Regions from separate parts of the Homo sapiens genome. Here region 1 is linked to region 2. Evidence: fine-mapped expression QTL. A gene starts in region 2. The other region holds a variant in brackets. All regions are shown on one strand. Distances are between the middles of the regions.

The links.
Region 1: its variant is fine-mapped to the expression of DNAJC7 in pancreas (GTEx, PIP 0.98).

What each region holds. Positions count from the first base shown.
Region 1 is chr17:41,493,225-41,505,170 of GRCh38, forward strand. KRT13 (keratin 13) reads right to left here. Exons shown (of 8, transcript NM_153490.3): 1 at 11,832-11,946; 2 at 10,419-10,501; 3 at 10,063-10,219; 4 at 9,713-9,874; 5 at 9,463-9,588; 6 at 9,150-9,370; 7 at 8,495-8,520; 8 at 7,757-8,138. The coding sequence ends at 8,032. Among named protein-coding and RNA genes, the nearest start is that of KRT13, 6.4 kb to the right of the region's middle. The variant T/C (reference allele first, on the strand shown) is at 7,505.
Region 2 is chr17:42,009,802-42,022,105 of GRCh38, forward strand. DNAJC7 (DnaJ heat shock protein family (Hsp40) member C7) reads right to left here and starts at 7,638. Exons shown (of 14, transcript NM_003315.4): 1 at 7,539-7,638. The coding sequence starts at 7,615. NKIRAS2 (NFKB inhibitor interacting Ras like 2) reads left to right here and starts at 10,289. Exons shown (of 4, transcript NM_017595.6): 1 at 10,289-10,403; 2 at 11,763-11,870. The coding sequence starts at 11,777. RefSeq lists enhancers at 1,140-1,669, 6,847-8,046, 7,157-7,206, 7,277-7,686 and silencers at 7,797-7,946, 10,173-10,582.

The DNA.
Region 1 (11,946 bases), 520 kb before region 2:
GCTGTCACAGTGTGCCCAAGGAGGGAGTGAGTTCTTCAAGCAGGGTGTCTCTTTTTATGCTTCTCTGGGCTTTGGTCAGAACATGCTGGTCACCACTACCCAAAGGCCCCAAAGATAGTGAAGCAAACAAACCAGACAGCAGCCTCTGGGATGGCCAGGCCAACCAGAAATGGGCACAGACAAGAATAAGATCTCTGCAGAAGGCCAATGGTTGTCTCTGTTAGAGCAGCCTGCTGGTTTCAGCTCCATCTTTCTGGTTTTCTCCTACTGCCTCTTCCACCCTTGAGGTCCATACACCCAGATCCTAGAGAATTTCCCACCAGAAGAAGCACCTAAGAAATGTTCATTCCATGTTTTAACCTCTTCAGATCCACCCAGCACCCAACGGTCACCCAGGACCCTGGGAGACCCACAACTCATTCTCATTTCCTCCACATGACTAAATTTTCCTTGGAACGAAGAATGTGTTCAAGTGACAAAGCACCTGGGAGCCCTGGCCCCTCCCCTGAAAAGCAGGGTTCTATATATTCTGTGTCAAATAACCCCATCAACAGCTCATGCCAAATCCACTGTCAACTTACATTAGATTCTAGTGCCGACATGCAACAACAGGTACACAAAGTTGAAGAAAGCCTCACAGAAAGGGGAAACCCTACAATTAAGCCCTTTCTAGCCACCAATGTAATTTTTCCAAAAACTCCAGGAAAAGTCTCGTTTATTCAGTTTTGTTTTTGTTTTTGTTTTTGTTTTTGTTTTTTGAGACAGAGTCTTGCTCTGTCACCCAGGCTGGAGTGCACTGGCAAGATCTCGGCTCACTGCAAGCTCCGCCTTCTGGGTTCACACCATTCTCCTGCCTCTCAGCCTCCCGAGTAGCTGGGAGTACAGGTGCCCGCCACTACGCCTGTCTAATTTTTTGTATTAGAGAGGGGTTTCACCTTGTTGGCCAGGCTGGTCTCAAACTCCTGAGCTTGTGATCCACCCGCCTCGGCCTCCCAAAGTGCTGGGATTACAGGCGTGAGCCACCGTGCCTGGCTGTTTATTCAGTTTTGATGGTGGAAAACTCAGGGCCATTCACAGACCTGATAAAGAAAGGGTTGCCAGATTTAGCAAATTTTTTAAATGTGGTATTAGGAGCATACTTATAGGGTGTGTGTGTGTGTCTGTGTTGTTGTTGTTGTTGTTGTTTGTTTACCTGCAATTCTGATCTGAGTGTCCTGTGTCTGAAACCCTCAGTAAGGAAACATCACTGGTTGAGAGCCTTGGCCACACAAATGCAGCTCTTTCTTCCCTCCTTCCCTGATGGCCTGTCACCATGGCTGGCTGTTCTCAGGGTCAGACACAGAGGGCTTCCCTTGGAGAATCGTGCCTTCCTGTCCTCTCACACCCTGCTGTCAGTGGCTGTCATTCTTGCCCTCCCAAGTCCAAACAGTACTTGGAGATGCAGAAGCTGAATTATCCTGCCTCCCATCCTGGCCACCTCAGTGACATTCCATCCTGATGGCAGCTGCCTTCAACAGGGTGACTCAGACCTTCCTGGACAAGATTTAGCAAGTCTCTCTCTGCTCCATTTCCCACCCCCCAGCTTGTGCCCCAAATGTCCACCTGCCCCCTGCTATCACCCGGCCTCACCAGGTTCAAGACAATCTGAACATGACTCAGTGGTGAAGGAGGTCCCCCCCACTGCCTGGCTGCCCCTCCACAGTGTTGGTCCTGGTCCTGAGCAGTGACTCCTCCTGAGACTCTGGGGCCCTACAAGGAGCATAGGTCCAGCTTCCCAACCTGCTGTTCCTGGCCTGTTCCTGAGCCCCCATCAGGCCTTGACCTTCATCGGGCCTTCAAAGTCCCACTTGACCAGGCCCGGAGTTACTCTAGAAATCTCATCTCCCCCAAAATACAAAAGTATTTTCTCTCCCCCTGGGGTGTGGTTTTTGCACTTGCCCAGGACTTCAAGGTTCTGCTCCAAGCTGCTTTTGCCGTGGCAGATGCCCAGAGAGCCACCCTAACTCCAGCCTTAAGCCATACCTCTCTGGTCCTCTTGTGGCCAAGCTCGGCCTTCCACATCTCAGGGCCCACCACCTTCTCCCCTGGGGCCAGCGCTCCCTGCACAGCTGCACTGGCTGCCAGCTCCCATCTGGAAGAGTCCACAGTCTCCTGCTCAGACTCACCGAGTCCCTAACTCCCCCACCCCACTTTTATGGTTGGAGCATTTCAGAGCGTCCTTTCTCTCCTTGGTGTGCTTGAAGAAGCTGTGATTGTGGGAGATGCACAGCCAGGCCCACTGGGAGAAAAGAGCTGGTACCTCAGTGTCTAGCGTCCCCTTGATTCAAGTATCACTTAGCTGAACCATAAAGCGAATTTTCCAAACACCCTGTTTGATTGGACTTGTAGTCTGCATTTACAGGGGCCGGCATGCAATTGATTTGACTCTCTTCCTACGAACAACAGCGTGTCTGCAAACCAGACTGCGGGCTCCGGGCTGTAATTAACCATGCCTGACACTGTGGATTTTACTTTCAAACTGGTCTGAGATCCTTGGATGAAAGAAGCCACAGTCATTATGACTGTTCATAAAAAGGGATACCAGCTCTTGGCCAAGTCCCCCAAATACCCACCCCCAACAGGTGCCTGTGCAAGTCTCAGCAGCACCCGCCACCTGCTTATTTTCTTTCAAACTCTGCAGGAGGATGGAGGGTGTAAAGAGTGCCCAGCTCTTTTGAAGCCCCCAGAGGAGCTGCTCAAAGGGACACAACCCACATATTCTGCTCTGCTCCAGCCACCAACAGTCCCAGGGACACCATCCAAAAGAGGCCAGTTCCCTGGGCCGCCCCTCAGATGCCCTGACCCAGGCAGGGAGGAAGGAAGGGCCCCCACAGCTGGATAAGAAAAGCTGGAAGTGGCCAGGCGCAGTGGCTCACATCTGTAATCCCAGCACTCTGAGAGGCGGAGGCAGGTGGATCACCTGAGGTCAGGAGTTAGAGACCAACCTGGCCAACATGGTGAAACCCTGTCTCTACTAAAAATACAAAAATTAGCTGAGTGTGGTTGTGCATGTCTGTAATTCCAGCTACTTGGGAGGCTGAGGCAGAAGAATTGCTTGAACCCAGGAGGCAGAGGTTGCAGTGAGCAGAGATCATGCCCCTGCACTCCAGCCTGGGTGACAGAGCAAGACTCTTTCTCAAAAAAAAAAAGAAAAAAAATCTGGAAGAGTCCATCACACCCATCGCCCTGCACCTCCTGCTGTGACTTTGCTTCCTAATCTTCCCCAGAGCTTCCCTTGGCTGGGACAGTGAGAGTCCCCTGCCAGGAAGGCCCAGACACCCCATCTCATACTCAGGATCTTCTATGGATCCTCAAAGCTATCACCCAACACAGAGGGGGAGCAGGCGCCAAGGGGGTCTCAGGCCTGGAATGTGCCTGCAGCCACACCCTGCCTGTCAAGGGTCTTCTGTGGATCCTCAAAACTATCACCCAACACAGAGGGGAACAGGCGCCAAGGGGGTCTCAGGCCTGGAATGTGCCTGCAGCCACACCCTGCTTGTTAAGGGCCCAGCTGGGGACCGGACGGGGCCCTATGTTGAGACCAGGCCCGGCCAGGACTGGGTCTAGGGCCCAGCCACTCCACCCTGTATCCCAGCAGGTGGCCATTGAGGCACTGATCTGCTTTCTGGGGTGAGCCTGCCCCCTGCAGGGCCTGGGCAGGACAGCCATCGCATTGAGGAGGGCAGCAGCCTGGCTCATTCCCCAGGGTGGAGCCAGGAAGAGAGGGAGGTGCCTATTGCTTGGGGTGAGGAGGAAGTGGCTGAAGCACCAGGAGTCACAGAACAGCGCCACGTCTCTCCACCTCTGTGTGCCACCCGCTGCCCTCCTCCCTCCAGAACCCGACCTGGCTCTGAGGTGCCAAGACACCCCAGGAACATCACAGGCTTGATTCCTTCATCCCCTAGGCTTTGGGGTCTGGGAGAGAGCCTCACTTCTCCCCCAGATTCCTGGAGCCGAATGCTTGACCCTTGGCAAAGGACCAGCCCCAGTCTTGGAAAGCACATTGGAACCACAGGTCCCAGCTCTCCCGCTGGGCAGGTCTTTGACCCCGTCCAGACCTCAGTCTTTCCATGTGTAAAATGGGCACAGCTGTGCCAATTCATGGGATTGCTGTAAAGATGAAATGAAAGAAAGGATGAGAGTAAAGGATGCGCTACTGTGTCCCCCTTTCCGTTATCTCTTTCATTCCGGCATCTCTTGTGCTGACATGGCCTCATTCACAATCATTGGCATGGACATTAGCCAGGTGCCAATGGAAAGGGGCTGTTTCCTCATAGCCACAGCACTGGGAATCAGCGGTGTGAGACTGGCATGGGCGTGGCACCTAGGTCAACCCTGGGAAGGGGAGCATTGACCCAGCAGGCCTGATAAATCTGCCCTCACTTGAATGGCCGCCCCACACCTGATAAAGAGTTGAGTCCCAGAGAGAATGAGGCGGATTCCCCACCCACTGCCTCTCCTACCCTTCTGACCAGAGAGCCGGGATGACCACCTGCTACTCCCAACTCAAGAAGGCTCCTGGGGTAGCTTTGGCAGAAACACCTGCTCTCGGCCTGCCCTCTGAGCTTCCCCGGGATTCCTGATGGGGCCACATAGGTCCTCAGATGGGGCCCAGCTTCTCAGTGTCCTTGCTGGGGTCTGGGTGAAAGGCTCCCAGGCCAGAGTCCCCACTGGGCCTAGAGTGCAGCTCATTTCACTGCTCCTGTGGGCAACTACCCTCACCCCCCACCAAGTTTTGCAAAACTAGCTCAGAGAATGAGGGGGCTGCCCCTAAACAGCCATGCCCGGGGTCTCAGGAAGAGGGGCTGCTCTGGGCCCCATAAGCCCTGGGATCTGGACCCCAGGGTGCCTTGGAGCAGCCAGGGTAGCTCAGCATTGAGACCCCAGGCCCCTCTCTCAGTCTAGGGTAGGGGCTCCTGTGCTCTCTGTACAATACTTACTTACCACTTTCATTTCCCATAGCTTGTATCTATTTATTCCCTCATTTCTCCATTCAACACATTTATTGAGCCCTTATAACGTTCTAGGTATGAGGATGAGACTGACGATGAAACCAGCCCTACCCAGAAGGAACGCATAGCTTAGAAAAGAGAACGAGAAAGATCATGACCAGAGGTATCTTGTTTACTGAGCACTTACTATGCACCAGTGACTGTTCTGAGCACTTGACTTTAATTAACCTATGAGGAAGGAAGACTTAGCAGATGAGGAAGTCAGGCCAGGAAGGTTAAGTAACTTGCCCAGGATTACAAATGCAGATCAGGTCCCTGTGGCTCTGGGCTCCACAAACATTGCACTCCAGTCATTGCTGACAGCACAGGGTCTTGCTGGGATCGGTGGGGAAGACCAGAGAAGACCCAGAGCAAACGATGAAACCTGAGCAGAGTTGTGAAGACTGTTGACTGTTCATTGCTGTGGGTGTCTCCTCCTACCTTCCTGTTAACCCGTGGACTCCTTGAAGACAGAGCCTTCTTTTCATCTGCCTCTCTTTCTCCAGGACCCCACACAGTGCTTGGTACACAGTGGTCACTCAATAGATAGCTGCTGACCAAATAGGTTACCAAAAACGTTAAAAGGTGCCGGGAGCAAGGGCATGTCCTGTTTCTCTTTAATGCCTTAGCTCCTCTGGTGCTGTTCCAGGCACGTGAACTTGAGCCGAGCCCCACCTTGTTCTGTAGGAACAAGTGGGTGGCGGGGTCTGGGGTGGGATTTGGAATGGTGGAGGGTAGACACCTTTCTGCTAGTTTAGCAAGCTGGGCCAGGCATGTCTGAGCAACCACTGTGTGAATAAGACAACTGTGTGCAGCCCATACTCAGGCTTGAGGTGGGGGAAGAGAAGGAAGACAAGGAAGGGGGAGACCACACAGGGGAGCAGCAGAGGGGAGGGGAGGGAATATGAAGATGGTGCCAGAGGAAGGGGGCAGATGGCCAGGGTGCCGGAACTCCATCTACCCTCTGCCTTAAGCCCCTTAACGAAAATCAAATGGCACTGGAGGGGCATTTCCCCAGTTTGTTCATTCACCTCTGCCTTTCATCAGCACTGACAGAGCCCACCTGCACTCTATTGGATGAGAGACCCCCCCCCCCCCGCCCGCTTTGAGGAAGGCACAGCCCTGCCTTTCTCACTGTCACTTCAGTGACACTTCAGCGATACTGTCAGTTCTAGGACAGGTGGGCACACACATGTGAACACCCAAGTGTGCCCCACCCCAGCCAGGTGCTGCAGAGGAGGGGGCATCCATCTCAGTCTGAATTTTGAATAAAAAACTGGTAGTCTCCAATAAAATGATGACAGGAGTGTGGAGAGAGAGGAGAGAAGAAGGTTGGGTCAGACAGAGGTCTGTCACCGAACAAAATCCCCAGGGTGCCCAGCCACCTGCCTGCTTCCTCAAGGGCAGTTTGGGATGGCAGGAATTTGGGGTGAGTGAGGGAGGCTAGTGTAGGAGCCAGAGCTGGGGAGAGGCCAGAAGAAGCTGCACCACCAGGACCTGGAGGCAGGCGAGGTGTCTAGGCTTTCCTCAGTGACCAGCAGGGAGCGATTGGGGTGTCTCTAAGCTGAGAAGAAGACTCAGTTTCCAGTAATCACCCCTGCTGGAGTGTGGAGCATGGAGGCAGGGAGGCCAGTGAGGAGGCTGTGGCCACGTGCCCATAGTTAGGACCAGGAAGGACATTATGGCTAATGCAGTGTCCACGGGAAGCATTGTGAAGGGGGTGAGGGACAGAGGAGGCCAGGATGACTCCTGGGCTCCTGGCTCAGCTTTCCAGGTTCTCCGGGATAAAGGGCAAGGAAGGAGCAGATCTGGGAGGATGATGGGAGCTCTTTTGCCTGGGTGGATTGAAGGAGGTGATGTCTGGCTCACTGTTGGCAATGGGAGTCTGAGGCTGGGAGGGGCCTCAGTGGAGATTCGAGTTTGGGCGTTATCAGAACATACAGGCAACTGTAACCATGGTTATGTCCTGGATGACCCACAGGGACAGTGAAGAGGAAAAAGAGAAGAACACCCACACCGGAATCCAGGAGGTGAGTCAACGTGCAAGGAGTGAGCAGAGCAGGAAGAGGTTGCGAATCAGAGCAGGGGCAGCCAAAGCGGCAGGGAGAGAGTGGGGAGCACAGAGAGAAGGGGCCAGGTTAGTGCAGCGGCCAGCCAGGGAGCTGGTCCCAGGAGTGGTTGGGAGTGGCAAGACCTAGGGGTGGGCTGGGGAGGACATTAGGAGTGGATGCCTCAGGCCAACAAGGAGCCATTTGCCTGAGAATAAACCTCTCTGCAGGAAGCAGGGAGGTGGCAGGTGGGGGCTGGGCCTCCTTCTCCCCAGATCACCCCTTCACTGGCCCCTTGCAGCCTGCCCCAGAGGCATCTGTACTTTTTGCCCATGTTTCACGCTCCCTTGACTCTACTATCAGCTGCCATTCTCACTGAACATCCTAATCTGCAAGGCTGTTGAACTGGCTCACGTGCCCCTGCGC[T/C]GTCTCTGGTGTGTTCCGTCTGTCCATGTCTGCTGGACACCATCGTCTGTGAGCTGCCTGTGTCCCCTGTGTTTGCCGTTGTTGTGTCTGTGTGCTCAGATGGCCCATGGGCCTATGTCTGTCCTTCCTAGATAGGAAGCTCCCCAGGCTTGTCGTTGTCTGGATTAGCTACTCCGCCCAGCTGTGTCCCCCTCACCCGCTAAACCAGGGCCCTAGCAGGGGCCACCTAAGAAACCAGGCCAGAATCAAAAATATGTTTGCAGAAAGGCAGGAAACTTTATTGAATAATCTTTTCTTTGGGGTAGAGAAGTTGAGAAACCAAAGCGTATCCAGGTCAGAGAGGAGAGAGATCCGACCGGAAGAGAAGAGCACAGAGGGCCCACCATCAGGAGAGAGTCAGGACAGGGGGTCCTGAGAGCAGAGGGACTGAGCCTTGGGTCCAGCAGCCCCTCCTCTCTCCTGCAGGGAACTGCCGGCTCTCTCCTCCTCTGGGTGCTGAAGACAGAGGGAGGGGACGCCAGGCAGATTTAAGGCCTACGGACATCAGAAGTGCGGCGACCAGAGGCATTAGAGGTGGTGGTAACAGAGGCACTAGAAGTCGTGGTAACAGAGGTGCTACGGGGGCTGACGCTTCCTGGGAAACAAGAGACAAGACATGCTCAGGCTGGAGAAGACCCACCTCAGGACAGGGCAGGGCCCCCCTGGAGGGCTCACAAACTCCTCATTAGTCAGGTGGTGCGTGGATGGAGACTCTTTATTGTCCCCAAAGATGGCTCTTCCCAAGACAGCCAAATAGCTCTGTGGGGCAGAGCCATCAGTTTCAAAAGGAAAATCAGTGAGCGAATGACCACTTCCACCCCAGCTCTCCCCCTCCCTACACTGGAGAGCCCAGCACTGGCTCCCTCCCTCCCCGCCAGCTCCCACCCCCATTGGGGCAGTGAATGGGAGGCTAACTCTGCCTCCCCCTACACCACGGGGCTGTTCCCTTACCTGCTGAGGAAGGGAAACCAATCATCCTGGGAGAGAGGACAGAGGTGGCCATGAGCAGAGGGTAACTGAGGGCAGGTGCTTACCTGTTCCTCTGGGGAAGTGCCTCGGCTTATCATTTCAAGCCCCTGGGCTGGACTCTAGTGCCTCCTAGCTGTGCCCCCAGCTCAAGGGACAGCAGCATCAGGTGCCCACTGGGACTGTCTGTCTTTCCTGTCTGTCTGTCTGAGAGGTCTCAAGGGGAGATATTATTAGCCACAAGATTCAGGGTGTTTGTCTTCCCTCTGGATCGCCCAAACCCGCAACCCTCCACCTGAGCCCTGAGCCCACAGGGGTGGCTTGATTTCTGCAAAGGGTCTAAAGGCAGTTAAAGCACCATAGTAATAGCTTTGTTCAGCTGAGCTGTATCCAAGCTCATGTTTTTCCAATATCAGATGTTCCCTCCATGGTCTCTGTTCCCTCCAGTCTAACTTGGAGGCCCAAATTAGAAAGTTTAAAGGTGTTAACCCTGCAGCCTACCAAGGAAATGTCCCCGTAAAGTCAGACAGTGAGGGGTCTCCTCTCTGACATGAGGGGGTGGATCTCTAAGGCCCTGCCTGCTCTGACACCCACGGGTCCTGCAGTCACTATCCTAAGAAAGAGGCTGGAGAGGACCTACTTGGCGTCCTGGCCCTCGAGCAGGCTGCGGTAGGTGGCGATCTCCTGCTCCAGACGTGTCTTGATGTCCAGCAGCATCTTGTACTCTTGGTTCTGGCACTCCATCTCACTGCGGAGCTCGCTCAGCTGGGCCTCGATGCTGCTGATGAGTCCCTGGATCTGCTGCAGCTGCAGGGCATAGCGGCACTCCGTCTCTGCCACCGTGTTCTCCAGCCCCGCTTTCTGGTGGAGCGACAGACAAGAAGTTACAGAGGGAGCCAGGCCAGAGGGAAACCTAGAGGTGGTCGCCACCGGGCAGGAGGCTGCAGGCATACCATGCTCAGCTGGGACTGCAGCTCAATCTCCAGGCCTTGGAGCGTGCGCCTGAGCTCCGTGATCTCTGTCTTGCTGGTCTGAATCATGGCAGTGTTGGTAGACACCTCCTTGTTCAGCTCTGCACTCTGAAATGCAAGCAGGAAGAAGGTGGTGGGGAAGCTCAGCTCGAGCAGCCTGACCAAGAGGCTGTGTCCGCCCGGCCCCCCTGGCTATATGGGATGGGCTATGTGGGGTGGGAGGGCCGGGTACCTTGGTGTGGAACCATTCCTCAGCATCCCGGCGGTTCCTCTCTGCCATGGCCTCGTACTGCTCCCTCATCTCTGCCAGCACGCGGGTCAGGTCAATGCCTGGGGTGGCATCCATCTCCACGTTGACCTGGCCGACCACCTGGTTGCTAAATTCCTTCATCTCCTGTGGGGATGGGAAAGGAAGATGTGTGAGGCTACTCATCCTCCCTCTCCTTGGCTCTGAGTGCTGGCAGAGTGTTCTGGAGAGTGTTTCCAGGTCCCACAGTGGAGGACTGTGTCCAGTTGCAGGGGAGGGCTCCTCCTTCTCACTGGAGGTTGTTGAGCCCAGGGCAGCCTGCAATTCCCGCTCACCTCTTCATGGTTCTTCTTCATGTAGGCTAGCTCTTCATTCAGGCTCTCGATCTGCATCTCCAGGTCAGTCTTAGACAGAGTGAGCTCATCCAGCACCCGGCGCAGGCCGTTGATGTCGGCCTCCACGCTCTGGCGCAGGGCCAGCTCATTCTCATACCTAAAATAGTAAAAAAATGAAATGTTTTTTGAAAAAGCAAGACATAAATGATATGAGACATTCTCCCTACCCCTGCACGAGACTCCAGTACTTCCAGACCTTCACTCCTGGGATGCTCCAGTGTCATTGGTCAGATGAGCTTTTGTCTAAACTAAGAGACTCCTGGGAAAGGAGAGGGAGGGGGAAAAAAAAAACTCACTTGAGCCTGAAGTCGTCCGCAGCCAGCCTGGCATTGTCAATCTCCAGGATGACCCGGTTGTTTTCAATGGTGGCGGTCAGGATCTACAAAATGCAGAAGAAGGTAACCTCTAGGGCATGGGTGTCCAGTCTGTTGGCTTCCCTGGGCCACATTGGAAGAAGAATTGTCTTGGGCAACACATCAAATACGCTAACACTAACGATAGCTGATGGGCTAAAAAGAAATTGGCAAAAATAAAAAATAAAAAAAAACTCAATGTTTTAAGAAAGCTTACAAATTTGTGTTAGGCCTCAATCAAAGCTGTCCTGGGCCACATGCAGCCCACCGGCCACAGGTTAGACAAGCTTGCTCTGGGGGGTCCACGTGCTTGAGGAGGTGGCCTGGGAAAACATGGGCAGGACCTGGTTCCCATGGGGCTCTACCTCTAAACTGTCCTGTGAGCTGGGACAAGGCATTTCCCTCTGGGCCTCCATTGCTCTTCTGTAAAGTGAGGAGTGGGGCTGCATCCCCTCCAATCGTTTCTAACACTTTAATATTCCATGTCTGAGCACCCTGGGGGAGATGCAGGGAGTGCATTTCTGAGGAACGACCTGCTGAGAACATCTTTGGTTCGTCATGTCTTGGCAGCCTCAGACTAGCACCCTCCCTAGGCCACTGTCTTGAGATCCATCCCCTGAAAGTCAGGAGGGACTCGGCTTGGTGCCACATATCTCACAATCACTTTGCTAGAGCTGACTTCCCAGCTGAGTGGAGGGGAAATCCAACAAATATTCCCATCCCTTTGAATTTCTTGTCTAAACGTTTATATTCCAAAGCAGTGAAAGCCTGCTCCACATGGCTGAGACTCAGCCCAGGCTGGTAGATTTCTGCTCCAACAGGCTGGTATCACAGCACAACAGACAGGGCTCAACAAAGGGCACCCAGGCTCGGCACTGCCTAAGCCTCTGCCTCTCTCTCCCCCAACTTGGCCATCGCCAGTTGAGAATACCAGTTTGAATGGGTCCCCTACAAAGTAAACAATTATTCCCAGGGCAATGAATGAACACGTCTCTCTTTCTCTGTTGATTTCATGCATTCTTAATGGCTTTTAAACCTGTCATGTTTCCAGATAACTCAGTAGGTTAGGATTATAGAGATCGAGTCATGAATAACATAACTGTCTGGAAAGCAGTAAAAAAACTGACCTGAGTAATAACAATCATAAAAATGAATAATGAGAGAAAATGCATTTGGGGAGTTGTGGCATGAGAAAGCCCATCAGAGGTAGAGACTCTTGGTAGTCAAACAGTAGGCTTTTCCCCTGCAAGAAGTTTGTGAATTCCGTCCACACCTAGTCCCCCACAACACTGTGTTTCTTGGCCTTGGAGGCTCTGCCCTTCATGGAGGACCCCTCCTCAGCTTCCAAGGGCTCACCTTGTCCCGGAGCTCTTCAATGGTCTTGTAGTAGGGGCTGTAGTCCCGCTCAGGGCTAGCTGGGCTCTGCTTCAGGTGCCAGTCACGGATCTTCACCTCCAGGTCAGCGTTGGCC
Region 2 (12,304 bases):
GACACCAGCACCCATCAAAAATTTAAAACTGAGGAACTACAATTAAGGAAAAGGCTGCTTTGCCCTGGCGCAGTGGCTCACGCCTGTAATCCCAGCACTTGGGAGGCCGAGGCGGGCAGATCCTGAGGTGATGAGATCAAGACCATCCTGGCCAACATGGTGAAACCCGTCTCTACTAAAAATATAAAAAATTAGCTGGGCATGGTGGCATGCAACTGTAGTCCCAGCTACTCAGGAGGCTGAGGCAGGAGGATAGCTTGAACCCAGGAAGCGGAGATTGCAGTGAGCCGAGATCGTGCCATTGCACACTCCAGCCTGGAGACACAGCAAGACTCCATCACAAAGAAAGAAAGAAAGAAAGAGACAGACAGAAAGAGAGAAAGAAAGAGGCTACTTCCTAGGCCGGGTGCAGTGGCTCACGCCTATAATCCCAGCACTTTGGGAGGCCAAGGCGGGTGGATCACCTGAGGTCGGGAGTTCGAGACCAGACTGACCAACATGGAGAAACCCTGTCTCTACAAAAAAAAAAAAAAATACAAAATTAGCCGGGCGTGGTGGCGCATGCCTGTAATTCCAGCTACTCAGGAAGCTGACTCAGGAGAATTGCTTGAACCCGGGAGGCGGAGGCTGCAGTGAGCCAAGATTGCGCCATTGCACTCCAGCCTGGGCAACAAGAATGAAACTCTGTCTCAAAAATATATATATATAAAGGCTGCTTCCTGAGTTTTTTTGGGTGGAGTGGGGTGGGGTGGAGATGGGAACTAGAGTGGGGAGGAGCCTGGATTGTCAACGGTATTTCACTTCTCAAAGTTGTCTTGGTTCCTTAGTTCAACAGGTGGTTAACTGTCTCAGGGCAAACTGTCCAAGGAAGAACTCTCAGGACAGAAACTCCAAAAACAAGAGAGGGTCCTGCTTGCCCCTCACACTCTCTCCAAAAGTAATATTAGAATCAAGAGAGATGGTTAACACTGCTTATCTGACAATCTGGCCTCCCCACACAAATTGTAAGTCACATGCCAATAGAATTTCACGTCTCAGAATAAGACCTGAGAGTCATATATTCCTCCTATTACCATTCTCAAAAGCCTCAACCACTCATATTCTTACCCATGGTGAGGGTAAAACATAGGAATTGCCATTTTGATCCGAATGGGAGAAGGAAAAACAGTGTCACTCCAATAAAATGAATAGCCTGTTAGGATAACTGCACTTTGAATTTTGTTCTTACTTCAAAAGTTTAAAAGAATACCTGGAAAGACCTCTGAGTAACTTCCACATCACTCAGTGCTGGAGAAAGGGGACCAAAGACTAGTGCAGTAAGGGAGAAATGGGCTCTCAGAGGGACTCTGCATCAGGCCACAAAGCAACTAGGCAACTGCTGACTATTGTTCTCCAAACTTCTAAAGTCCCGAAGAACAAAAAAGCAAGTGCCCAGTACTCAGCTTTTCAAAACCATTAAAATACAAACTTCAATGACTAAACTAATCCCTGATTGGCTGGAATGTACAATAAGGCTGGGCTTTCGGCCAATCAGAGTTCTGTTTGTTGGGAGTGGACTGGACTCTAAGCAACTGCCACTCACTTGGCCCTATATTTTCTCAAAATTCTTGTTTCTCTGGCACTAGTTAACATGTGGATCTGAACTAAAGCACTAAGAGAGAACCTTTCTCTGTACTCTACCTTTGCTCCAGTTATGATTATCTACTTTGCCATCTGTTAGTATCAGGGTTCAATTAATTTGCCGGTATTGAGAATTCTGTATTCCTAGGTTTATCCCTTCCTTAACTTATTTCTCCTCCCATCTCCCATTTCTTCACATCTGACTACACTTAGTGCACAGCAAAAGGAAAATAGTGTTTCTCACTGATTTGGGTTCCAGGTCAAAGATAAATTCCCACTCAGTTTGGAGGCTTACTGAAATGTCTAGGTGCTTGCTCTGAAACTTCAAGAGGAAGATTAGAAGGACACATTCCTAAGAATTTAAAACCAGGTAAGGAAGAAAGCTGGGGAGGCATGCCCACAAGCTCTTCAGTTAAGTGAGGCCACAAACTCAAAAACACCATGCAAAGCTGCAGCAAACGAACAGCAACTACAGGAAACCCGGGACATGAATTGAGAGTTCAGTTGTTCCCATTAACAATCTGAATAGAGAAATAAAAGGCAAAATCCTAATCGCAAAGAGTGTACAATACCTAGGTAGTAAGGGCCTAATAAGAATTGCTCTTATTTGTGCCCATCAGGAAAACATACAGAGAAGTTAAGTTTATCAGCTCAAGGAATCAGGTAAGGATGTCCTGACTCTTAAGTCTATGGATCCCTTGATTCTTTTAGATCTTGTTGTCCAGTCACACTAGGTATATGCTGAGACACGTAAGTGTTTTCTCTTTGAAAAACAATTTGAGGTTGGGTGTAGTGGCCCACGCCTGTAATCCCAGCACTTTGGGAGGACAAGGCGGGCGGATCATGAGGTTAAGAGATCGAGACCATCCTGGCCAACATGGTAAAACTCCGTCTCTATTAAAAATACAAAAATTAGCTGGGTGTGGTGGCACACGCCTATAGTCCCAGCTACTCGGGAGGCTGAGGCAGGAGAATCATTTGAACCCAGGAGGCGGAGTTTGCAGTGAGCTGAGATCACACCACTGCACTCCAGCCTGGTGACAGAGCGAGACTCCGTCAAAAAGAAAAGAAAACAATTTGAAATCCCTCAAGTTTACCATAAGAAAGACTCCCTATAGAGATCAAGCTGTTTCCCAGCCCAGGAGATATAACAAGAGATCCTTAATTCAAGACAGGTATTCCCATATTAGGTAAAGCAGTCAGCAACTTCCCAGGAAAATATAAAGCCTTAAGTTAGTTGAAATGTGAAACATCTGAAGTTTAACCCTCTGGCTCATAAATAGCTTTGCCTGTTTTGGTGAGCAAAGAGAAATAATCTTCATGCATAGAATCCTGATCTGTTTTGGAGTGCCAACTAATATATCTTTTATTTTAGCCCCAACCCTTTTTTTTGAGACAGGGTTTCACTCTGTCACCCAGGATGCAGTGCAGTGGTGTGATCGCAGCTCACTGCAGCCTCGACCTCCCCCAGCTCAGGTGATACTTACACCTCAGCGTCCCAAGTAGCAGGGCCTACAGGTATGCACCATCACACCCTGCTAATTTTTGTATTTTTTTTTTACAGAGATGGGGGGCGGGTTTCACCACGTTGCCCAGGTTGGTCTCGAACTCCTGGCCTCAAGCAATCCACTGGCCTCAGCCTCCCAAGGTGCTGGAATTACAGGCGTGAGCCACCGCACCCAGCCTTAAATGTTTTTATAGAGACTAAGTCTCACTATGTTGCCCAGGCTGGTCTCAAACTACTGGGCTTAAGCGATCCTCTCATTTTGGCCTCACAAAGTGCTAAGATTACAGGCATGAGCCACTAAGCCTAGCCTTATTTTAGTTTCTTGGCTGCTGTAAGGGAAACAGAACTTTGTCAGAGTGACATGCAAAAAAATTGAAATCCATCTCTTTTCTCTACAGAAACACTAAAGCTAAGGAAATAAAACATGTAGCCATTTAAAATGCTGCAATCGTGAAGTCCGTCTTAAAAGCTCCTCTCATTTTGCCCCCCTATGGGACTGTGACAACTTAGCAGCAGCAGGACATGTCTTAAGCCAAGACGTAAGGAAGGAAGGACTCCTTACAAAGCTGGACCTCACAAAAACGACCCGAGAGACTCATTAACTCTTGATCCCTAAATGAACTGGTAGGAGGACCATAACAACAGAGGCAGGAACTTGGCCAAAGAACTCTAACCAAGCCAGACAGTAAAAGGGCATTTGTAAGGGATGCCCCTATCACTGCCCTCTGCTATGGCCACACAAGAGGAATCCAGGACACATGAAAAACATAAAACCACCTCCCTCCAAAGCTTCTAAATCTCCATCCCATTTTCAGCACTGGAAAAATCATACATAAACAAGGCTTTTTCATACTAACAGAGCCTAATGTTTATTCTTTTTTTTGAGACAGAGTTTCACTCTTGTCGCCCAGGTTGGAGTGCAATGGCACGATCTCGGCTCACCGCAACCTCCGCCTACCGGATTCAAGTGATTCTCCTGCCTCAGCCTCCAAGTCGGTGGGGCTACAGGCATGCACCGCCATGCCTGGCTAATTTTTTTTTTCTATTTTTAGTAGAGATGGGGTTTCTCCATGTTGGTCAGGCTGGTCTCAAACTCCCGACCTCAGGTGATCAGCCTGCTTTAGCCTCCCAAAGTGCTGGGATTATAGGCATAAGCCACCGCGCCCGGCCAATGTTTATTCTTCTAAGGATGTCTGATATGGCAAAAAGTTAAACTGATTTTTTTGTTTATTTCACTTATTTTCCTTTTTTTTTTTTGAAATGGAGTCTCACCATGTCGCCCAGGCTGGAGTGCAATGGTGTGACCTTGGCTCACTGCAACCTCCGCCTCCCGGGTTCAAGCGACTCTCCTGCCTCAGACTCCCGAGTAGCTGGGATTACAGGTGCCCACCACTACGCCCAGCTATTTTTTCTATTTTTAGTAGAGATGGGGTTTCACCATGTTGGCCAGGCTGGTCTCAAACTCCTGACCTCGTGATCCGCCCACCTCAGCCTCCCAAAATGATGGGATTACAAGTGTGAGCCACTGCACCCAGCCAATTTTCCTTTTGATTTGTGCAAAAAAGTGGTATATAATAAATAACTATGTTTAAGTCTGTCGAAAACAGTGCTATATATGAGAAACATAAAAGTCTGATAAGAATGCATTTTTTTCTTTTTTTAATTGATTTTTTTTTTTTTGAGACGGAGTTTTGCTCTTGTTGCCCAGGCTGGAGTGCAATGGCATGATCTCCCCTCACCACAACCTCTGCCTCAGCCTCCTGACTAGCTGGGATTACAGCATCACCCCACCTGGCTAATTTTTGTATTTTTAGTAGATGGGGTTTCACCGTATTAGTCAGGCTGGTTTCGAACTCCTGACCTCAGGTAATCCACCCGCCTTGGCCTCCCAAAGTGCTGGGATTACAGGTGTGAGCCACCACGCCCAGTCTTTTTTCTTTTTTTAATTAATTTTTTTCTGTCACTATTTGAACTACAGGAATAATGCATGTTGTCATGTTTAATTTACAGTTACATTTTCTTAGTGACAGATAAAATAATTTGCATTCTGCAATCAATGACTTTTTTTTGAGATGGAATCTCACTTTGTCACCCAGGCTGGAGTGCAATGGCCCGATCTCAGCTCACTGCAACCTCCACCTCCTGAGTTCAAGCGATTCTCCTGCCTCAGCCTCCCGTGTAACTGGGATTACATGTGTGTGCCACCACGCCCCGCTAATTTTTGTATTTTTAGTAGAGACAGGGTTCTGCCATGTTGGCCATGCTGGTTTCAAACTCCCGACCTCAGCTGACCCACCTGCCTCGGCCTCCCAAAGTGCTGGGATTACAGGTGTGAGCTACTGCACCCAGCCTAATGACACTTAAATTCCATGAAATAAGGTAGTTTACCTTATTTTGTTGTACTGCTATCAAATACCATGTTTTGTGTGATGTGGTCACATTACAGCATAACCTATTTTATTATATGTCTTCAGGTTCATTTACTCCAATTTTATGATAGACTATCCTCTAAGGCTGTGATTGAAGAAATGTATTTGCTTAAGATAGGAGGCTATGAAATGAAGTCCAAAATAGGGACACTCTACATCAGAGATTTACAATGAGTAGGGTGAGTTTTTAAAATTACCTATGGCCAGCCCGGCACAGTAGCTCACGCCTGTAATCCCAGCACTTTGGGAGGCCGAGGTGGGCGGATCACGAGGTCAGGAGATCGAGACCATCGTGGCTAACAGGGTGAAACCCCATCTCTACTAAAAATACAAAAAAAAAACAACAATTAGCCGGATGTGGTGGTGGGCACGTGTAGTCCCAGCAACTGGTGAGGCTGAGGCAGGAGAATGGTGTGAACTCAGGAGGCGGAGCTTGCAGTGAGCTGAGGTCGCGCCACTACACTCCAGCCTGGGCGACAGAGCGAGATTCCGTCTCAAAAAATAAAAAATAAATAACCTGTGGCCAAATCCCTATTTACAGTATAAAGAACCACTGAACTCTTTCCAAATACAAGTAAATCTCTACAATTAATTTAAGCTCCGTCTGCACTGGGAGGAATTTTGTTTCCCATTGTGCAGCTCTTTAATGATGTATAAGGGTTGATGATGCTTAGCTTTAAATATCTAGGAAGAAGTAGGAACAACATGAAAGCTCAAAATTAAGAACAGAGACTGGACTCTGGTGTCCTGGCTTCTCTGATATCCCAGGGGCCTATTACACTTTGTCAGGCCCCTCAGCTCCCAGCAGATCAGGAACTTGAGATCTGGCTGTGGTAACCACCCTCAAGCTTGATAACTATTCATTGCGTCCGAGTACTTCTTATATTTCGAACTCATTAGATAGTAAAAATCTCAGAATCCTGATTTCAGATCTCATGAACTAATTCTACATCACCGCCTCAAATTACCCAGCCTGAAGACACAACGGGCTTGGTATGAAGATATAAAGTATGTTGCAAAGAGACTGAGGGCACTGTAGATATCTTGAACAAAAGGGTCAGACTAACCCGCAGCTGATAAGGAAAGGGCTCCAAACTTCTAGAACCTTCTTGTCAATTCTGCTTTAGGATTAGAACAAGTATGACTACCCACAACTCTGTTCCAACCCCACTTCCAATAATCTGGCCTAACTGTTGCCAGAATCTAGAGCGTTCTCGAAAACCACTCACTCAGCAGCTCCCTTGGCTAGTCCGACTGGCAATCTCGAACCACTGCGGCTGCTTCGGAGTGCCAACAGCGCCCAAGCAGTTGCCCTCTTCCTTGGTGCTTAACTTAAGAAAGAACAGTGCTGGGAAGGATAAAGATCACCCAGGAAGGACAGGGGAAGAGGAGTCTGACGTAGAGAACACGAGATAAGCCCCTCGCTCTTCCTTTTTTTCTCTGTCATCTTTGACTTCTGGGATAACCGGGGGCAACCAGGTCAATTATGGAGACACACAATCACTTCGAACCCAGACTAGTGATCGCTGGGGTATAATTACAAGGGAAAACGGGGTGAGGAGAGCAAAGGTTTTGGAGACGGAAAGTGCAGACAGGCAACAATGCACAGAAGTTAACAAGAGAACGCGGGGGTCGGGGGCGATGTAAGGAAGTCGTCATCGACGCCGCGCCGCTTCCCCCACCTCGCACCAGACCTCTGAAATTGCCCTCGGAGACTCGGCCTCTCCTATAAGGACGATCGTCCTCTCAGCTGGAGAACAAGGCCATGCCTCAGCTCCTACGCCAGGCGGAAGCGGGAGAGGAAGGCCGACCCCCAAGAGCGCCCCTTCAGGGGGTCCATCCGGCCTTGATCTCAGATGGGGGGGTGTTTGCGGAGGGCGGGGCATCGCCTCAACAGCTGGGGGCTGCATCATGGCAGGAACGAGTTTCCCTGAGCCACGGAGCTGCAGGTCGCCTCCTCTACTACCCTGCTACCCGGTTACCTCTTCGCCTCTTGGTCGTCGAGCAGCTCCGGCTCGGTCGCCGCCATTACCACATCGCACTCCGCGGCAGCCGCCATCTTACCGCCGGGACCAGAGAGCTGGGTGGGAGGCCGGCGGTGAAGAGCACTTCCGGTTGGAGCATAGAGCAGCTCCGCGGCGCCGCGCCCAGAAGGGCTCCCTCGGGCTCGTCTACCAGAGAGAGGCTCCGCTTGGGGCCAGAGCGGCCTCCCGCCCCCGGATGTCCACGGTGGTCTCCGCGCCGGGGCGGGAGCCCAGGGGCTGTGCCGGTGCGTAGGCGGCGCCACTTTACCCGTGGGTGGGAAGGCGGGGTGTACCGGTGGTAGCCTCTCTAGGGCTTGGCTGCTTTCAGTATTCCAAGAGCCTCATTGCCATAGCAACTTCCAATCCTAGAGAGTCTTCCTGAAAGGCTCCGTGGAGTCTGGGTTGCGTGGGGACCAGGTGACCCAAGACTCTGTAGGGAAGGAGTCCCCACTGCTACCTTTCCGACCTTGGAGTGTGTCCACAGCTTCTTCCCGGGAAAGTCAAGAGACACTTTGAGCTCAGTTCCCCCAGCTTTCATCGTTCTCTGGAAGCCCTGCCCAGTCAAGCCAGGGGAACGCAGGGCGTCTTCACCCTGCGCCTTTCATCCACTCCGGATCTCCAAACACCAACTGGTTCATCACCCTAATGACGCTGACCCTTTTACAAGGCTCCTTTCATGTCAGCCGCCTGGGAGTGCCATCTCAGCATTAAGCCTAGGAAAGCTGACACATGGCGCCCCAGACCCTGCCCTGGAGTTTATAAGGAAGCTCGCGGGGTGAGGTCCTTGCTCTTGTGTCCCCAGTACTCCCACCTCTTATATAAACTCTCTACTCATCACGCTTGCCTTGCCGAATGCGGTCTGGATTGAGAATTCATAGGGGACAAGGGCACAGTTTAACTGTCTTTGTTGTTATTCCCTCACCCAAACGACTATTTGTGGAGCTGAATTAAATTGGAGCTTTCTGGGGTTAAATTGGAGGAGTATGAGGAGTAGCTTTACAATGTAAAGCTAAGAGTAAAATAAGAAGAGGGCAAAGGAATTTTAAAAGGATTTACCTGTTTGTTCCAGGAAAACAGCATGTGCCAATGCTCATACTCTGCCTATCCCAGTGTGGAGGGAGCTGAAACCACAGCGACCACTGAGTAGGGAGGGATAGGACAAGCTCACTAGGTTGGAAAGGAGGGGTCATTCGTTGAGCCAATCACTCAGCCCTTTCCAAAACGCCTACTCTGTGCTAGGTTGTGAGGGCACAAGACTTACAGACCACCTGCCCTGCCTGCCAGTGGCTCATAGTCCAGTCTAATGCTAGCCAACCTGTCTCACCATCTTCCCACTTTATGTTCTATCTAAGGCAACTCATTTATTCCCACAGCTTTACTTCCATCTGTTGATGACTCTCAACTTTTCATATCTCCAACCTAGACCTTTCTTCAGCTTCCACAGCTGTATATCCAACTATCTACTGGATATCTCTTGTATGTTTCACAAATCCCCAAGGCTTACCATATTTAAATTTAACTTTTTCATTGTCTACCCACACCTCAACAACAGAAAAAACAAATGTTGGATGTAATTATTATCTTTCCTAAATTCCGTATCTTGTTAAATGGATTAAACCATTCTCACTCTTGGCTTCCAATTTGTTGCCAAGTTTTGTTGATTCTCCTACCAAATATTTCCCAAATCTATCTCCACCTTTCCATCCCGATTCAGGCGCTCATCATTTTTTAAAATCTTGGAATAGGCTGGGTGTGGTGGCATGCATCTGTAGTCCCAGCTATTTGGGAGGCTGAGGCAGGAGGATCACTTGAGCCCAGGAGTTAGAGGCTGCAGTGAGCTATGATCACACCAATGTACTCCAGCATGGAGAAAAGAGCAAGACCCTGTCTCAAAAACGGCAACAACAACAACAACAAAACAACAGAAAAAAAAACTTGGAATACATCAATAGTCTCCTAATCGGTCTCTAATTTCATCTCTGTTCAGTCTTCCCTCTTCTGCCAGAGTGACCTTCCTCAGGGACTGATCATGTCTCTTCATTGGCAATGGCTTTCCATTGCCGTCAATTTGATCTCTTTGGCCTACCACACAAAGCCTTTGATTATCTGTTTCTTTTTTTAAATAATTTAATTTGAGTACCAATATTTAGGTCCTTTCTACCACCAATATTGAACCCAAGTTCTCATAGTTTCAGAAAATGCCATGACTTGTAGCCGTTTCCTCCACCCTAGAACACCCTTTCCCCCAGGCCCTTCAGTGTCTGCTGACTCAACGTTAAATGCCCTTTTGCTGTGCTCCACAGCACCTCAGTAGTTGTTAGACATCTAGCTTCTCTAGACCGTGAGTTCTGATGGGCAGCCACCATGTCTAACTCGTCCACTTTCTCTCAGTATATGGCCCTGCACCAGGCACAGACAGATGATGCTCAGAAAACATTTGACGAATAAATGATTGAGTAAACGAAGAGTTACTGTACTCTGATCGCCTTTACAGAGAGAACATCTGGGCCTCAGAGACACCAGAACACCCAGCGGCCCGCGTCCAGGGAGTCTAGAACCTTGGGCTCCCGCGCACACCCAGGCCAGGTCCTGGCCGTCATTCTCCCGCCGGCCTCTGGGGGAGCTGCGCGGTCCGCGCTCTCTCTCCGCTGCCGGAATTCGTCTTGCCTGACGGAAGCTGGGGAGCGGGCAGGCGGCGGGGGCGGGGCCTGGAGGAGCCTACACCGACTCTGGAGGAAGACTGGAGCCTTTGCGGCGGCGCTGCCCCTCCCCTGGTCCCCGCGAGCTCGGAGGGCCCGGCTGGTGCTGCGGGGGCCCCGGGAGGTACGGACCTGGGAGGCGAGGCTCGTCCGGCGCTAGGATCGGCCTCCGCCTCCGGGCCGCTTTAGGTGGCTGGTCTCTGCCTCTCATTCCCTCTGGGGGCTCCCCCGTGAGAAAATCTGTGGCGGAGGCACCTCTGGCCCACTCTTATGGTGTCCTTTATTGTGGGGCTCGCTATATGGAGAGGGGGTCTGTGTCAGGAGCTTCCCCTGGAGAGGTTTCTGTTAGGGACCGTCTTTGGGAGTGATCTATCTCTGCTCTCTGGGGGGGATCTTTGTCTGGAGCTTTTGGGGGGCTTGTGTTTGGAAGTTTGCCTTCGGGGAGATATCTGTCTGGGACCTCTTAGGGTTTCTGTATCTGAGCTTTCTCTTTTGTGTCTGTCAGTCCAAGGGCAGCAAAAAGTATGTCCTTTCTGAAGCCTTTTTTTCCGTAGGTTTCTTCATTCTTTTCTCTCTTGTCTTATGTTCATTTTAGCCATAGACTTGACTGGAGTTTAGAGGGAATTGATTGTTGTCCAGATGAGTCGTACAGGAAAGCAGATTGTCTTTTTTTGAGACGGAGTCTTGCTCTGCCGCCCAGGCTGGAGTGCAGTGGCATATTCTTGGCTCACTGCAATCTCCGCCTCCTGGATTCAAGCGATTCTCCTGCCTCAGCCTCTCAAGTAGCTGGGATTACAGGCACCCGCCACCACGCCTGACTAATTTTTTGTATGTTTAGTAGAGATGAGGTTTCACTATGTTGGCCAGTCTGGTCTCGAACTCCTGACTTTGTGATCTGCCCACCTCGGCCTCCCGAAGTGCTGAGATTACAGGCGTGAGCCACCGTGCCCTGCCCCAGATTATCCTTTTTATTTGCTCAGTCCCCCCAGGGAGCAGATGGCTTCAGACAGCCACACAAAACACTGTTCCTGCTTAATTCTCCATGGGGTCATGGTTAAAGAGAGGAAGCTGGGCTGAGCTCCCTTTACTAATTGGTCCTCTACATCTTGCGCACAGAAGGGAACCTGGCCCAGTGGCCAGTGACTCTCCTCTCCCTTTATGGCAGCATTTCCAAGCACCTGCCCTGTGACAGATACTGGCTAGGTACTGGGGATAACAAAGACGAATAAAATAACAGCTTACCATCCAGTAGTAGACATGGAGACATCCGTTTCCTCTGACTAGCATTGGGATGGTGCTGAAACCCTGGAACTATACATTCAGTTTAGAACTATACATTCAGTTTAGAACTCTCAGTTATGGACGTTCTGCCTTCTGTTTTTTTGGTTTTTGTTTTTGTCCACCAGAAAACATCTGCTAGTAACTGCCTTCTGTGTTGATGCTTTCTTTCCTCACCTTACCCAGCGTGCTTCTGTTCTTCAAGGTTGAAAACTAAGCATGGGGAAGAGCTGCAAGGTGGTCGTGTGTGGCCAGGCGTCTGTGGGCAAAACTTCAATCCTGGAGCAGCTTCTGTATGGGAACCATGTAGTGGGTGAGTGTTGTTGGAGGGGGAGGAACAGTGGAAGAAGTTGAAAAATAAGGAATAGGACTTGATCACAACACACACAGGCTAAAAGCTGCTCCTGGTGGTTTTCCCCCCTGGAAGAATAAAACTTACATTGTAACAGATCAACTCTACAACACTGAACAAATACGGAGGGAGAAAGCCCTATGTCCAAGATAGGAAAGAGAAGCTGTCATGTCACACTTGTGCTTAGCATGGAATTAGCATAAAATTAATGTCCATTGGCCGGGTGCGGTGGATCACGCCTGTAATCCGAGCACTTTGGGAGGCTGAGGCGGGTGGATCACCTCAGGTCGGGAGTTCGAGACCAGCCTAACGAACTTGGAGAAACCCTGTCTCTACTAAAAATACAAAATTAGCCGGGTGTGGTGGCACATGCCTGTAATCCCAGCTATTCGGGA